2 separate regions of the Homo sapiens genome follow, and region 1 is linked to region 2. Evidence: fine-mapped expression QTL. A gene starts in region 2. The other region holds a variant in brackets. All regions are shown on one strand. Distances are between the middles of the regions.

Region 1 (2,909 bases), 55 kb before region 2:
GAGTAGCTGGGACTACAGGCATGCACCACCATGCCTAATTTTTTTTTTTGTATTTTAGTAGAGACGGGGTTTCACCATGTTGGCCAGGATGGTCTCGATCTCCTGACCTCGTGATCCGCTCGCCTCGGCCTCCCAAAGTGCTGGGATTACAGGTGTGAGCCACCGCACCCGGCCGGGGCCCTCATTTTTAACTCTTCCCACAGGGAATGCCTGGCTGCGCACCTAGGCGGTAACGATGGAAATCACTCCCTGTTGTGCGGAGGGGCTTTTGAATGAAGGAAGCGGCTCTCAGGAGGAGCACGGAAGGACTAAGGAGCATTTTCGGGTGGAGTAACTCAAACAGCAACCTCCTGCAGCTGCTGGAGGATGACCACAAATCCAGATCTTTCCGTGAAGGAAAGCAAAATTGAGATGATTGGATTTATCTTGGGGGATTGCGGAGAAAGCCCTTAGGGTGTGGTGCTGTCTATCTTTTAACATTCCAGATGCTAAGTCTCAGAATCGGAGTAGCAGTGGTTGCTTTTGAATAAGCTTGGTTCAATCTTGGTATATTTGTTGTTGATTTTAAAATGAGATAAATGGTTTGAAAATTATGCTAACTTGTTCCTGTATTTCTACTTTAAGTGGATCGTATGAGTTGAGCCATAAGTGAAAATGTTACTGTCTTAAGCATTATGATTTTTCAACATAAATATTTTAATTATATATAAATCTGATTTCAAAGTATTTTCATCTCATTTATCTCTTTTCAAAAGCACTGCCAGTGAAAGATGTAGAAGATAAACCTGAACAACAAACCAGAACAAGAGAGACTGACAAATCACCCACCAGTACTGAGCCTCGACAGCAACCAAGTGCCTTATTTGCTAGAGGAAACAGGAAAGCGGTCAAAAGTCCCCAAAGATCATCGAGTAAAATAAAAGAAAACAAGCATCCATTTGCTCTTTATGGCTGGGGAGAAAAACAGACCGATACAGGAAGCCAGAAGACTCACAACGTCTGTGCGTCCGCTCCTGTGCACGAGGTGCGCTCTGGGCCCTTGTGGTTCTGTGTTCCCTTTGAGAGTGGCCAGCTGGGCCATGCGCCTGTCATCGGGCATCGTGTCCTTTGGCCACTGGGTGCTTTGGGCCCATGGGAGATCTTAGGGGATAGCATGGTGGGTTGGGGAACTCCAGAATGGAGCCTCTGATGAACCAAAGGAGGATTCTGCATGTTGGTGGCCTGCAGAGCGAGGGGTTTTGGCTTGGAGTTACCCAGAAGAGTTTAGTGACACCAAGCCAGGCAAAGATGTAGATGGAGTTGGGGTTCACAAGTTCCTGGGGGGCCGGAAGGTTAGGAGGAGCAGCACAGCCAAGGCTGGCGACGGCCCATCTGGATTTGCCACTGGTCTCTTGAGCTGTTTCAGCTTCCTTCAGCTTCGATAACCTGGCGCTTCTTTATCTTTGGTTTGTCTGATTGATTGATTGCTTGGCATCTGCCAGAGACTCCCTTTTGTTCCTCTGATTAAATTCAAATGGCTGCATTTCCCCTGTTCATCCATAACAAATGCATTTTACTCTCAGGAGCTTTAGTCCTCCCCTGACTTAGCCTTAGCTTGTCTCTCCTGTGTCAAGACCCGGAAACATT[T/G]CAGATGAGAGGACCTTCATGTGTGTAGTCAGAAAACATGTATGTTAGCGTTAATACTGTTATGATAGCCTAAAGCAAAGGCTGCGTTTAAGGAAGCAGAAAGTGAAACTGCAAACTGCTTGAGTTCTAGATAAACAGCATAATGAAAATTTCACTGAACAGACATCTGAACCCTAGCAAATGGTGTTATTTGGAGTGATATTTGAGACAACAAAGCTGCCGTTTAACAAAAGATCTCTAAGAAGTCCGTGGGATTAATTTTAACAGGATTTATCTGTAGTATAAGACATCTTAGGTGGTAAAATCTCGAGATGTCTTTGGTATACTGATGTTAAACATTTAAAGTTCTTTTATTTTCCCTGCTTTTTATGAGCTGTTTATAAGTCGTTAATTAAATACTTATGTTTAATGCTAAGCAGTTCGGACAGTTTTCCAGAGCCAACTCTAGAGGCACATGCAAATTAGTTGCTTACCATTTCTGTCTAACATTTAATTTGCTGTTGCTTAGTTTCATTATCCCTGATATGAATCAAGTGAGAACAGCATCAAGTGAGAATGGCTCTTCTGTGGAAGGTTTTATGTAAAGAAGAACTATATAGAGAGGCAGGGCTTGACTCTGCCCTGCTGCAGTTGACCTGGCAGTAGCCAGCTTCATTGCAACCTCTGTTGAACATTAGTATAATAGCCCCTTAAGTTACTATCCTTTATTTTGAACTCTCTTTAGATTCATGAATCAGCATTACGAGCCAAGAACAGAAGACAGGTGGAAAAAAGGAAACTGGTTGCTCAAAGGCAGCGAGCTCACTCTGTGGATGTGGAGAAGAACAGAAAGATGAAGGCTTCCTCCTCAGAGAACCCGTGGATGACAGAATACATGAGGTGCTATTCGGCAAGAGCTTAAAGAAACACTTGCGTGGACAGCCTCTTTTAAAAAGTGTAAATGACTGAAAGGAAAAACAAAACAAAAACCATCAAAAGAAACGGACACAGGTTTAAGAAACCAACTGATTATGCAAGGTTTTTTTTAGGGAATTTGTAAAAGATTGTTTTATTTTGATGAATATTGGTCACCTACCTCGGCAGTAGGGCAGACAGTTGAAGCCATAGACATTTGGTTATTTATGAAGATAATTCCCTAAATCTTTGATATTCTTATAAGGTTTTTGTTTTAAAGCATCTTAATCTTTTAAGATACTGACACCAAATGCCTTTAAATGGCAACAGATGCTTACAGTTCAGTATTCTTTTCATAAGCTTAGGTAGAGCCTATTATCATCTTGTTC
Region 2 (2,909 bases):
CTGACACCCCTGTCTGGGTCATCTTTCTTTCTAACACACTTTCACGGACCACACTCCTTCAGAACTCTTGCCTGGTTTTTAATTATTCACTCATTAGTATCACAATTGGATTAATACTGCATTCCCTCAATAGACTACGCTCCATGAGACCAGAGCCGTGTCTGCTGTGTTTCTGCAGGATGTACAGCCCTCCCAGCACGGTGCTCGCTTCCCTAATGCCATTCCACAGTATTTGTTGCAGAGAAGGAAGCAGCATGCCAGGACAGATGGAGACAGGACTAATTTGGCTTGAGGTATGTAATTTTGAACTTGAGCCTCTCTCTGGGACTGTAAAACTCCAAATCAAAGTCTTAATCTGAGAATACATACATCTGAAAGAGTGATTAGGGACTGGTAAACATCTATTAATATTCAACTCTGATACAAAGTACAAGTTGTTTATTCTTACCACGCAAGGCCAAAAAAGGGGAGAAAAAAAAAAAAGCACACAGCATATGCACTGGGAAAGCTTTCGCTTATTCAAAACAGTATTTGTCAAGCACCTCCAGGTCTGGGTGCTGCAGGGGAAACAAAGATTAAACAGCCAGGGCTTTGCTTCCAAGGTGCTTACGGTCTTAAGAAGGAGACAAGACATGTTTATAAATAGCCAAAATGCAACCCAGAAAAGGCTAAAAAACACTGAGAGGGAGGGAGAAATAAACGAAGCAAGAGGTCTCCGGAGGAAGAGATGAATGAATTAGCCTATTAATAACTCCTCACTGTAATCCCAATGTAAAGCAAGGAATTCCAAACCAGGAAAGGTCAAACTGAAGTATTTGAGGAACACAGGCGTCGCCCTAAGCCCTTCACAGGCTCGCTGGGGATAATATCGCAGCTGAAACCGAACATCAAGCTGGCTTTTCAAACCTTCAGTTATTTACATTAGACTGAGAGGGGAAAAGCGCTAAGAGTGCAAGAGCAGAGAAAGAGCAAGAGGAAACTTGAAAAGGCGGATCACGCCAATGCGCTGTGCACAGCGCCCCCGCGCCCCGCGCACCCGCTACCCCACCCGAGCCCCCAGCGGCCCGCGTCCCCCATCCCGGTCCCAAGCCCAGACACCTCCGAGATCCGTCCCCCGGCTCCGGCCGGCGCCACCGCCACCCTCAAGACCCCCGCAGCCCAGGCCCGGCCCCGCGCCACCGACGCCCCCCGCGGCCCGACCCGCGCGCCCCGCCAGCCCGGGCCTCGTACCGTAGGTTTCGGACATGGCCGTCTGCGACATCTTGGGAGCGGCGCCGCCTCTCGCCGGGTCACCGGCTGCACTCGCCCGCGGTCCGCCGGCGCGTCTCGGTGGGGAAGGACCTGGGGCGGGGGACCGGAGGAGGGAGGGGCCCGACCGGTCCCCACGGCAACCGCCGGTCTCCCAGCGGCTGCGGCCCAGCCGGACTCCAGCTCCGCGCAGGCGCAGGGCCCTCCACCCTCCGTCCGGCCGCGACCGCGAGGAGGAAGAGGAGATGGGCTACGCGAGGCCCGGCCCACCCCGCGTTCGCGCGTGCGCACGGGGAGGCCGGGGCGGGGCGCGTGAGGACTTCGGCGCGCGCCGGAAGCACGTGCGCGGGCTGGGCGCTCTGGCGGTGTGCGCTGAGGTGGGCAGAGCGGCAGGTGGGGGCGTTGGGGGCTGAGTCCCGATTTCCCTGAGGGAGGGTCGGGTAGAGGCGGGCGGTGGGCAGGTTTGGGGGTGACAGAGGGCTGGGGACAGTGGGGTCCAGTTGCCGGACAGAGGAGGAAGGTGCCCGCACTGGGGAGGAAAGCAGTCCATTTGCCAAATTGGCCCGTCTCAGTTAAGACGTTGTCTTCGGTCATCATCTGCGGCTGTCAGCCAGGAAAAAACTTCCCTGACGCTGTTACGATGGAGGCCAGAACTTGGTTAATGTGTAACAAGGAGGCAGTAGGCCCCAGGTGTCCAGCCAGAGGCCGCCCTGTGAATGGGAGGCAGGTTCATTTACCCGTTGGGAAGCTAAGCTTTCACTCCAAACTGCCGGGCCCTCTTGGATGGAGCTGAGCGGGTGTGGGCGGAATGACAGAAGCGCAAGATGCCCAGGTGCTAAAAGGTCATCGCAAGACTACAGGCTGCAGCCTCTCCACATCCCATTTTAGAGGGTTCTGGATTACGGTTGAGAAGTATCTCCCGGCCCTCAGCTGGGGATGTGTTTCCAAATTTAGGAGTTTTTTTAATTTTTATTTTTTAACAGGGTCTGGCACTGTCAGCCCAGCCCAACCGATTCTCCTGCCTCAGCCTCCTGAGTAGCTGGGGCTAGGGGCTCACACGACCACACCGCGCCAATTTTTAAATTTTTTGTAGAGATGGGGTCTTGTTATGTTGCCCAGGCTGGTCTTGAACTCCTGAGTTCAAGCATCCTCCCTCCTTGGCCTCCCAAATTGCTGGGATTACAGGCATGAGTCATCTCACCTGGCCTTGGATAGTTTGGTTTCAGAAGCAAAACTGAGTTAGAATCCCCTTCTGTGGGAAATGTAGAGATAAACATTTATGGGAAAGAGAATTTTGGTTGAGGATTTGGCCCATCTGAGCTTGATCAGGGCCACATAGCGCCTCATAGTTCCCAACCTTGTTCACAATAGGTAGTCGAATGCTCAAAATATCCTTGGCTAAGCTCCCAAGTGACCTGGACTGTGTGGAAAATGCCAGTACATACTTTTGTGTGTGTGTGTGTGAGTCAGTTTGGCTCCATCCTCCACATAAATTGGCATCAGAGCTTCCCTCTTCCCCAGTGGCTATTTGGGTCGGTATTTTTCTCTTGTCTCCGATCCTAATAACAAATAAATGCAGTTTTTTCTAAATCACAGAGAAGGCCCCATGGTGAAAAGTTGTGACAGCTGTAATTCCTAAAACTGTTTTATATATATTTCTT

Direction of the effects. Positions count from the first base shown, and alleles are read on the strand shown. Sizes are in standard deviations (SD) of each study's normalised expression.
For the expression in skeletal muscle of the gene that starts at base 1,447 in region 2, allele G in region 1 goes with a higher level than allele T (small effect, 0.31 SD a copy in GTEx).

What was found. PIP is the estimated chance that this variant, and not a neighbour inherited with it, causes the effect.
Region 1: its variant is the best candidate, but not a certain one, in a credible set for the expression of RAB4A-AS1 in skeletal muscle (GTEx, PIP 0.80).

Annotation. Positions count from the first base shown.
Region 1 is chr1:229,324,853-229,327,761 of GRCh38, reverse strand. It overlaps CCSAP (centriole, cilia and spindle associated protein), which reads left to right. Exons shown (of 4, transcript NM_145257.5): 3 at 756-1,024; 4 at 2,351-2,909. The coding sequence ends at 2,527. Among named protein-coding and RNA genes, the nearest start is that of CCSAP, 17 kb to the left of the region's middle. The variant T/G (reference allele first, on the strand shown) is at 1,627.
Region 2 is chr1:229,269,692-229,272,600 of GRCh38, reverse strand. RAB4A-AS1 (RAB4A antisense RNA 1) reads left to right here and starts at 1,447. Exons shown (of 2, transcript NR_149313.1): 1 at 1,447-1,625. RAB4A (RAB4A, member RAS oncogene family) reads right to left here and starts at 1,490. Exons shown (of 8, transcript NM_004578.4): 1 at 1,231-1,490. The coding sequence starts at 1,261. RefSeq lists silencers at 949-1,108, 1,149-1,678.